Linked DNA regions of Homo sapiens: region 1 is linked to region 2. The links come from fine-mapping of genetic effects on gene expression. A gene starts in region 2. The other region holds a variant in brackets. All regions are shown on one strand. Distances are from middle to middle.

Region 1 (5,371 bases), 42 kb before region 2:
CAGCTCGGGGTGAACCAGGCAGACCTGCAGTGCGGTCTGGGCCAGGGACACATGGTAGTCCACCGAGGCAGCTTCCACCGGCACGTTGATGAAGAGCTGGCAGGACTGGGAGGGAACAGCAGTGAGCACAGGCAGACCAGCATCCCCTGGGTTCAGAGAACTCAACGGCTTGGCCATTTTCCAAGGGCTCCAGGGAGGTTAGAGTTTACTGACAGCCCTTTCTAAGAGGGAGCACTGCTACTGTTGGAGGGCATCTCTGCTTACTAAAAGGGGCTATGGGCTACTTTGGGATAGAAGTTTCCTTTTTAAAATGTTCTCATTACATTACATAAACAAGACAAATTCCTTAAAAAAAACAAAAACAAAAACAGAAAACTCAAACATTCACAAAGGACATGCTAAAATAGGTCCGAATCTCTCAGTCCAGAAGCAACATAAACCTCGCCTTTTCTGCTTAACTACAGGAGGAGGGGAGCTCCTCCAGGGAGAGTTTTCATTGGCATTTCCCAAGGACTTGTGCATGACGTTCCAGAGCTGCTTCCCTCCCAGTGACAGGATTACATTCCTGCCATCCAGGAAGTGATAGGGACCCTGGGAAGTTTCCTTCCCTTCCTCTCCAGATCCCTCTGTGGGTTGTCCCCAACTGCACAGGCCTTCTCCACCCAAGTATTGCAAGTATCCCAGCGGTGGGCCTGGCCGCCACCCCAATTTACCTTGAAGAGCTTGAGGGCCTCCGTCTGCAAGGCCTCAGAGGGCAGGGTGGTGAGGGAGGCGTATAGGCCGTCTTTGCTGTAGCACAGCATGGGGTGCCTCCAGAGCGGCGAATCTGCCCAAAGCACGGAACCAGAGAGCAAGGGCAGTTACTACTGAGAGGGGACTCATCTCCCACTCACCGCCATCTTTAATTTATGGGGAAGATAGTGGTTTATCTTCCGTCAACACTTGGGTTGTGCTGGGTTTATCATCCATAGAGTGTGGGGTGTACAGGTGGGCACTGCAATGAGCACCCTCATATAAGCATGGCCTTTCTCGTGGAATGGCAGTAGGGGTGAGTGTGCAAGGTTGTGGGTGTCTGAGTGCAGGTGGATGTGTGCAGGGGAGGCCTCTTTCTTACTGTGTCAAGTCTGGATGGAGGGGCATATGAATTGGTCAGAAACAAACAAGCCTCAGAGCAGTAGTAAAGGGGTGTGTGTGGTATATGCCATTAATTAGTTCCTCAGGGCCCTGATAATCAGTAGCAAAAGAAAGACTCCAAACAGGTTAGTCCGATCCCAATTTAGGCTTCACTTGTTGATTTACAAACTCTAACTATAGATTAACCAGCTACCTTCTTTCCTCAGCCCTCTGCCCAGCCAGCAACGGGGCAGCTTGATCCAAGTAAAACATTTACCCAGGTCCCTGGAAAGCCTGCTTCCCAGATAAACTCCCCCAGATGCAGAGTGGTCACCTTAGTATCTCAGCCGGAGACAGAGGGGCCCTGGAGCTTGGATGGGAACTTCCCCTCTGTGGCTTAGATGTTTTAAAAACAGCTTCAGGGTACAACACTGCTTTCTTTGGGATCTTGACCAATAGTCACCAAGCCACTACCCTCCAACCCAAGCAGTGGTGGCCACCCTTGCCTTACCTGGATCTCCTTCACCATCCATCAGTTTTCCAATGAGCTGCTCATAGGCAGTGCCCACCTTGGCACTGCTGCCACCTGCAGCCACTGTGAGGTGGTAGAGCCACGTATCCTGGAAGAGGGCGGAAAGCCATCGGATGGGGACGGGGTGGGAAGAGTGGAGGCAAGAGCTCCAAGGAGGACTCCTTGAAGGGACCAAGCCCATGTGGGGTTCAGCTAGTTTGGTTGGCATGAGTCAGGGCTACCTGGAAAGACTGAGGATCAGGTGAACATGAACCCAACTTTCCAAATTTGCGATTCTATTACATGACCTCAGTGAAGCAATGTTGGTCACTGGGAATAAATTCAGTATAAAGGAATATTCCCATTCAGAGAATATTAGTTGCCAAAGTGTCCAAAAGGAAATAAATTTGAATTTTGGGAAGCTCAGGAGAAAGAGAGAAGGGAAGATCAGAATCACAGGTCCAAGCTTGGCCCTGGAGGCCCAGCCCTCTTCCTTACCTTTTCATGCTTGGTGCCAATGAGGAGGTAGGTGGGGCTGTGCTCTGTGGGGTGGATCACCAGGGTGCAGTGGGAGGAAAGCAACCGTCTGGTTCCTCCAGCCTCATAGTCCTCGTCTGAGTCACAGGATCGATCTACTTCCTCTATG[T/C]GCGCATCCCGCACAGGCAGGCAGCCCAGGGGTCGCTGTGGACAGCAGTCTTCCATGAATGGGAGAGCCAGTGGGGGATGAGGGAGTCTCCTCTCTCTGAATACATAGGCTCCGTGAAGCTGGGAATCGTGGATATGGACCGATGACAGGATGGGGAGGTGGAGACTATAGCATCCCAGCCAGGCTGGCAGCAGAATGAGGCTTGCTTGGAGAAGCACCAGAGACCCAGACAGGCAGAATCTCACACTCTGGAGGGATCCAGCCAACTGATTTTGTATTTATTGTGGGGTTACGTGGGGTAGGGACTTTCATCAGGACATAGAGTGGCAGTCATGTGCTTCGGGGGAAGCAGGAGAGTGGGTATTGTGAGGAGGCTGAGAAGTACCTTGTCCTCATGGCTCCGATAGTAGTAGAAGATTTTCCCAACAAGAGCGCACCAGACCACCTTGGAGTGGCCATGCTTTACCTGTAAGACAGAAATGAACTGGCATTATGAGAACTAGGTAACTCTAGAAGTAAATCCAGGACTGGCAAATAGAAGCCACAGGGAGACAGATTTGACCTATGGTAGAGATGGAGATGCCATTTGGGCTCCCTACTAATGGAACCACCCCTTTCACAGTGAGGGTGCCATGACACCCTGTGGCACCCCAGCCATCATGGGCTATTCAGTGACCTATGACCTGCCATGAAACGATTAGCCAGGCCAATCAGATGTCCCCTCCAGGCATATGAAAATAGGAAGAACTTGCTAGGTGGCAGAAGCCACAGTTGTCAGGGTGCCGGGAGGGAGGGAGGGAAAACAGCAGGCTGAAGCCCTTGGGCAACCATGCATCATGAAGGAACAGAAGCTGCACACGGGCGAAGGAGAATGACATAAACAGATTGAACGAGAAGCAGAGCCACACAGCGAGCCTGCCAGCCCTGAGCTTGCTGAGTGCAAGTCGCTTTGGTTCCTGCTGGTGTTCTGGTCTAGCTAATGTACTTCCTTGTTAACTTCCATTTTCTTGGGTTTAACAACTGCTTCTCTGCTCTGTTCAACCAGAAGAGCCCTAACAAAAATGTCTTTAGGGCAGGCCTGGGATACTTTAAGTCTTTGAGGAGCCATACCTACCTCGCCCAGGCCTCTTCCTCCCACTATTAACACTGAGGCAGGTATAAGGTGGGGGTGGGTGACAGCCCCTAATGACCTCAAAATGGATACAAGATAGTCCCTTCCCTTCTCTTTCTTGAGAATAGTTGTTCCAACAACCCTGATTTGTTTCCGGGGAATCACTCGCCATCACCTTGTGTGGCCAGACCACGTTTGAGGGCTGGCCAGCGAGTCACTGTGAGGAGGCTCCCAGAGAAAGGAGCCCCGTATAAGGGGGAACCCACCACCCTCGGCACCCCAATCCTGGCTCCCCTGATTCGCAGGAGGCACATGTTCCTGCCCTATCAGCCCCACCCTCTACCTTGGTCAGCCAGCCCTTCACGGTGGGCTTGGTGCCACCCCGAAGCAGAGCTGGAGGCCCGGTGGCCTGCACCTTCAGCAGGCTCTGGAGTACTCGGATCCACTCCTCCAGCAGGCTGGGTGAATCGGCCGTCAGGTAGTAGGTTTTCTTCTCAGAGATGAGCTGTGGAGGGCGAGATATGGGGGTGGGGCAGCACGCTGGGAGAATGGAGTAACCAGGACCTGGCTCCGAGGTGGCACCTGTCCCTGAACCCAAGGGGCTGGCCTTCTGCCTGCCCTAGTGCTCCCTCCTTTCTTTTCCTCCTCATCTTTTCCTCCCTGTCTCTCCTTCCTTCACTCCATCTCTCATATTCTGTCTCATCTTCCTTTCTTGTACTCACAAGTTAGGATCACGTCCAAATGTTGATCTGAAGTCTTTCATTCATGCTCATTTGGCCCCATCTTTGTCTCACTCACGGCCATATCCAAACCCAGCACCTCTTCTGTTTAAAATACTAGCAGCCAGGAGCGTGCTCACCTGAAACGTCTGTGAACCCTCCCCTCGAACAATTTGGCAGCGGGAGTTCAGATCCACTTGGCCTTGAGGTTTCCGGATGACATCACTCTGTAAAGAAAGTATTGGAGAGGAGAGCCACTGAATGTGGAGCCTTTCCGGAGCACCTCATTTACCCTCAGATCTTCCTCCACGTCATAAGCAAAGGGAAACATGATTCCCAGCATTCTGGCTGTGTTATGATGGGTGACTTATTCTAGATTCTGGTTATAGCTAAATGGAACCTTAATCAGGAACATGGGTCCTTCTGAGAACCTCCCTATTTCATTCTGAAACTCACGGCCAGGCTTAGGTCCCCAAGTGTGGCTCAAAGCCTCAGGGGCCCAGTGAGGTTGCCTCTCCCCACCTGCCAGACCTTTGCCCTCTGGCCTTGGGCCACATTCCCCCTCCTCCGTCCCATCTGACATAGTCCAGGGTGTGATGTGGAGACCTTTTGACTGCAGTGCTGGGCGGGGAGACTCTCACCGGGGACTTGTAGTACATAATCTGTCCCTGTCTCAGGACAAACCAGCGCCTCTTCCACGTCTTCACCTGGCTCCCCATTTTCAGCAGGTAGCCCGACTTCTCCAGTGACTCCTGAGGGGTGGAAGGGTGTAGATGAAGAAAGGGGAAATCACTCAGGGCTCCTAGACATCACACAGGTCCAAGTGGTCCAGCTGCCTCACTACTCGGTCATCAATTAAATACAAAATTATTGAGTACCTACTCAGTGTATTTTCAGAGTACCATGCCCTGCTATGGTTCAGAGAGGACTAAATAAAACATGGGTGGTCCTGCCAAGGAAGGGCTCCCATGCTAGCTGGGGAAGACCTCACTATGAGAAGGTAGCAGAGCAGGGGCTGCTAGAGGGAGAGCCTGGCCAGGGAGAGCGTCAGGAGAGAGCCGGCCCTGAGCTGGCCTTGTTAGGATAGTTCAGCCTCTCCCTCAAAGACTGAGAGGAGGAAGAAGACCATTCCAGGCAGCACAGAGCAGGGAGAGGGCAAGGCAGGTCTGGGCAACCTGGACACATCAGCCAGGCAGGACTGGAGGGTCATGGAGCCAGGGAGATGATGGGGCAGCAGAGAGGTGTGGGGCGAGGGATGCGGAATTACATCG
Region 2 (5,371 bases):
TAAAAGAAAGAGGTCAGAGGTCACCACAGGCCTCAAAATAGCTCATTGCCTCTATCTTGTGGAGGATGCAGGAGGCATTGGAAGGCAACGGGGCTTCTGTTATATGCACAGTTTCCACTGGGCTCTCTCATATTGCCTCAGTATGGTTCATTCCCTGAGTGTGAGTATCTGTATGACTTCCACTTGCTAGTGAGGGGCTACCACCATCTTCTAAAAGTGCTCTGCCAGACGTGGCTGACTACTTGTCAATTGTGGGAGAGAAACAGCTTTGTGTCCCGTTTCTGGGGATGAGGCTGGGAGAAGGGTGTGAGTGTACACAGGGACAACTTCCTCTGATCTCAGCACTGTCATCTGATCAAGCTAACAACATCCATTTGGCCACTGCTGGGTGCCTACATGACATTCCACACAATGTCCGGGGAGACAGAGAAGGTGAGCATGTCCTAGGCCGCAGGAACCTCAATACCAAAAGAAGTGGTCAGGACAACCAGGTACAACATTCCTTGAGAACAAAAACAGCAAAGAGAAACAGCTTAGTACCTAAGATCCCATGCTCTGGCACTGACAGGCCTGGGTTTGAATACGAGCTCAGGCACTAAATAATCCTGTGGCCTTAAGCCATTTGCTTAACTTCTTTGAGACTCAGTTCCATTCTGAAATTGAGGGCAGTAATATTTGAAAATCAGGACAATAATATTTGGTTGAACCATATGAAACCGTCATTTAACCATTTTCCAACCTTCAAAATGGCCATTTCATATATCACATCATGCAGGGCTTTTTGAGAATTAAAGGAGATATTACAAAAGCCTGGTGCACACTAAGTACTCAATAAATGACTGTTATTGTTGTAATCAGCAAACAAAGGCAAACCAATAGCATCTAGAACATAAAAGGAGATGTGGCCCAAAGATGTGCTCACGAGGCTGGGCACGGTGGCTCAAGCCTGTAATCCCAGCACTTTGGGAGGTGGAGGCAGGCGGCTTACCTGAGGTCAGGAGTTCAACCAGACTGGCCAACATGGTGAAACCCTGTCTCTACTAAAAATACAAAAATTAGCCAGGTGTGGTGGCGCATGCCTGTTAATCCCAGCCACTTGGGAGGCTAAGGCAGGTGAACTGCTTGAACCCTGGAGGCGGAGGTTGTAGTGAGCTGAGATTGCACCACTGCACTCCAGCCTGGGCAACAGAGCGAGACTCTGGCTCAAAAAAAAAAAAAAAAAAAAAAAAAAAAGATGTGCTCACTACCAGATCTAACTCTGGAGATCTGGAGAGGAGGTCATATGATTTTTAAAGTTATTTTAGAACATTGAACAAAAGGGTATATAGTGCAAAGTAAGGCTTCTTCCCATGCCTGTACTTCAGCCATAGTTCTCCCCAGCGGCAACCACTGTTACAGGTTTCTGTGTGTTCTCTCAGAGATATTCAGAGCATCTACAGGCATTCATATGTATGTGGCATTCACACACCCACCCAAAAATCGTGGCCCACCATACACACTGTACTCAACAATATAACTTAGAGATATTCCTACATCAAAGTATATATCTGCCACATTTTCTCTGCACGCTTTATAACAGCTTTAATGTATCCTATCGTGTGGCTTTTACATGATCTTATTGAAGGGTTCCTTATTGATGGACATCTAGATTGTTTCCAACCTTTTGCTAAACAATGCTGCAATGAATATTCAATGATGTACACCATTTCATATACATCAGAGTATATCTGAAGGATAAAGTCCCAGAAAATGGAATTTAGGGGTAAATGATGTACACTTTAAATTGCCAGACATTTCTTTGGATTTTTTTTTTTCTATCAGGAATGGGAGGAACATGCTCTCCCCTACAGCTGGTGACTTCTGAAGAGGGCAGAAGAGGCTCCACATTTTTTCAGCTTAGTTGTTAGTTTCAATGAGTTTGGGGCCACAGGCTGCACCCCACAATTGCCCAACTCTGAGCAGGCCCCCTCAGCAGTCTATGGGAAGGTGGTAGAAGTGGACTGAACCATACGTTAGGAATTTAGGAGGCTTGGGTTTCAGTTATGGCTCTTCCACTTTTTAGCTATGTGACCATGGGCATATCACAACAATTTTTTTTTTAACAGACAGGATCATCAGCCTCCCAAGTTAGCTGGGACTACAGGCCCACACCACCACACCCAGCTAATTTTTAAATTTTTATTTATTTGTAGACACAGGGTCTCCCTATGTTGCCCAGGCTGGTCTTGAACTCCTGGCATCAAGCTCTCCTCCTGCCTTGGCTTCCCAAAGTGCTGGGATTACAGGCATAAGCCACTGCAACTGGCCTAAATCACAACTTTTCAGAGTCCCAGCTTCCTCCTTTGGAAAAATGGGGCCAATAATATGCAGAAACACTAATACCGATGTTCTATAAAGCGTTCAGTGATGGTACTAGCCCTATACACAGTGTCTGTCACATAGAAGACAGTCCAAACAGTTTGATGAAGGAACTGATAATTCTCCCACTGAATTTTTTAAATGGTCTTTCAAGTGTTTTACCTGAACCAAGGCTCTGTCTTGGAAGAGTTTTATGAGGTGGATTCATAGTAAAAGCTATGGAGGAGATATCCTGGCAAGCAGAAATCCCACAAGGAGAGGAGTTTCCTTCCAGATGAGGCTCTTCACCGCCTCTGCCACCCCCACTAAGGCCCCTGGTTCCTGGTGACCGAGTCCTCGCTAAGACTCCTAGGACACAATGCTCTGTGTCATTCGGCGCCCAACCTGTTTTCTTTTCTGCTTGAATGACCTGCTCCTAGGAGTCGAGCCTGAGCCATAGGGTCCCAAAGACAACACTCAGAAATCACAGAAGAAATAACCTGAGGTGAGATGGGGAGGGGTGCGGGAAGGGGTGAAAGGGAGCGAGCACCGATAGCAAGGTGGCAGCCTGCACGTCCGCTCCGAGGGCCCTTCCCAGGAGCGGCTGGATCTGACCGATCCCCAAGTCCAGGTACTCCCGGGGGAGGCTCCTCCTGGCCTCGCGGCGCGAGTCCCCTGGGGCGCCCGGCTTCCCAAGCCAGACCCGCGCTCCAGCGCTCCCCGCCGCTGGGAGCTCGCTTCCAGGTAGGGAGGCACCTGCTCCGGATCGTCCTCTGGGCCCGAGGGGCCGTCCCCCGCGCGCAGCCTGACGCCCTCCGCCGCGGCGCAGCCCCAGCCCACCACAGCGGCGGGAGCGCGGGTCGCTCACCTCCAGCGAGCTCGCGGCCGTCCCCGCCGCGCACTGGGCACACGGGCGCCCTCGGGCCGCCGCCGCAGCCGACCTTGCGTCGCTCTCGCCGGAGTCCCGGGCTGCCGCCGGTTCTCCCCTCCCCGGCAGCAGGGGTCGTGGGCTGCGGGGCGGGGCGAGGCTGGAGCGGGAGGGGTGCCCGCGGGCTCGCTGCACAAAGCCCGGCCGAGCCTTGCTGCGCCCCATTCAACGCTCCGCCGGGCGCCCTCCTCCCCTCGGCTCCCCGCCCGCTCCTTAAAGGCAGAGCGCTGGGCTCAGCTCTCCAGGCAGCTCGCGGAGAGGCACAGGAAATGACCTCAGCAGGCTCCAGCCTCCCACTTCTCCGCACCGCTGGGCTCGTCCCTGGGGCGGCAGGGAGGGCGGCGGGGTGTCCCGGGCGCCGGCCCGGAGCTCTCCGAGGAGGCCGCACCAGCTGCCGCAAGGGGTGGCCAGAGCGCCCCGGGGATCTGCTTGACCCCAAATAGCGGGGGACCCTCGCGGGCTGCGGGACAAGACCAGACCGTCTCCGCCAAAGGTTCCAGCATTCTCCTGGCCACCTGTGGGAACTGTAACGTCTGGATATTTGGAACAGAAGTCCATATTTCAGTCTGGCAGACCAAATGTTCTGAGTTGCAATTTGCAGGAGAAAAAGAAAAAATAAGTTACGACAGCCCAGAGAGTAACTTACTTGCTTATTTTCTGGTCTCGCTATGTTGCCCAGGCTGGACTCGAACTCCGGAGCTCAAGTGATCTTCCCGCCTGGGCCTCCAGGCCGGCTTATGTATATGTTATTTTAAAGGAGGGCCCAGGAGGACCCTGGCTGCCAGGCAGTTTGCAGGGCAGTCATCAGCGTGCCCATGTGCTCCTCGTTCTCAGACATTTGCAGATCTCAGATCGCCCAAAGCAATCTCATACCCAGAGGGGTTGGAAAACTCAACATTTGGCTAGGTGAGCCTGGAGTAAAGAAGATGCAAATAGAGACCATTGCAGGGAGGGATCCACACTTCAAAACAGAGCCTTCTTCCTCAACCCTGCAGGCTCTCTGTCAGTGAAGGACTGAACAGAAGCAAAATACCATCAGCGCCTGTTTCTCCAAATGGTCCTTGGAAGACTCATCCCAGGCACCATGAAGAACACCCCCACCCTGGGTTTGAATCTGAATCTCTAACTAAAGTACCCCAGGCCATTCTCACGTAGAAGTTTTGAGAGCCCAGACACTAAGGAAAGCTGGTAGTGCAGGAGGCCAAACGTGAGAATTTAACTGGGCCAATGGGACTTCAATGGCTGAACTTGCAAACAGCTTTATAGCTCGTGGGGATTGGGATAGATTAGCCCCATTTTGTGGGACAATGCTCAGGCTATCCACTTCAACATTCCAGAAGTTGCATAAGGAAGCCCAAAAACACGTTCTCTGGATTTTGCTAAGAAGACATTAATTCATTCATTCACTTTTTTTTTTTTTTTTTTTTTGGACATAGGTTCTTCTTGTTCTGTTCTCCAGGCTGGATTGCAGTGGCACAATCATAGCTCACTGTAACTTGAACTCCTGGGCTCAAGCAATCCTCCCATCTCAGCCTCATGAACAGCTGGGACTATAGGCACATGCTACTATACCCAGCAAAAAAAAAAAAAAAAATTTTTTTTTTTTTTTAGTAGAGGTGGGGTCTCAAACTCCTGGACTCAAGAAATCCTCCTGCCTCGGCCTCCCAAAGTGCTGGGATTACAGGGATGAGCCACCGCACCTCGGCCCAGAACTCATTTAATATAACTTTGTTATATAGTGAAAAGAGACGCACCATGGAGAGTGGAATGGGAGGAGCATGCTCTCCCCTATAGCTGGTTACTTCTGTAGAGGGCAGAAGAGACTCCACATTTTTTTCAGCTCAGTTGTTACTTTCAATGAGTTTGGGGCCATAGAGTGCATCTCACCATTGCCCAACTCTGAGCAGGACCCCTTGGCAGTCTGTGGGAGGGTGGTAGAGGTGGACTGAACCCTACATTAGGAATTTAGGAGGCTTGAGTTTCAGTTATGTCTCTTCCACTTTTTAGCTATGTGACTTGGGCAAGTTACAACTTTTGTTGTTGTTGTTGTTTTCTTTTAAGAGATAAGATCTTGCTCTGTTGCCTAAGCTAGAATGCAGTGGCAAT

Direction of the effects. Alleles are on the strand shown, and positions count from the first base shown. SD is a standard deviation of normalised expression in the study named.
For the expression in transverse colon of the gene that starts at base 3,314 in region 2, C is the high allele of the variant in region 1 and T is the other (small effect, 0.11 SD a copy in GTEx).

Evidence for each region. PIP is the estimated chance that this variant, and not a neighbour inherited with it, causes the effect.
Region 1: its variant is fine-mapped to the expression of PLEKHH1 in transverse colon (GTEx, PIP 0.90).

What each region holds. Positions count from the first base shown.
Region 1 is chr14:67,572,757-67,578,127 of GRCh38, reverse strand. PLEKHH1 (pleckstrin homology, MyTH4 and FERM domain containing H1) reads right to left here. Exons shown (of 29, transcript NM_020715.3): 12 at 4,742-4,852; 13 at 4,241-4,327; 14 at 3,725-3,886; 15 at 2,656-2,736; 16 at 2,123-2,305; 17 at 1,625-1,733; 18 at 714-826; 19 at 1-105. It also overlaps a transcript of GPHN not described here. Among named protein-coding and RNA genes, the nearest start is that of PIGH, 25 kb to the left of the region's middle. The variant T/C (reference allele first, on the strand shown) is at 2,271.
Region 2 is chr14:67,531,233-67,536,603 of GRCh38, reverse strand. PLEKHH1 (pleckstrin homology, MyTH4 and FERM domain containing H1) reads right to left here and starts at 3,314. Exons shown (of 29, transcript NM_020715.3): 1 at 3,206-3,314. It also overlaps a transcript of GPHN not described here and a transcript of TMEM229B not described here. RefSeq lists a silencer at 3,221-3,690.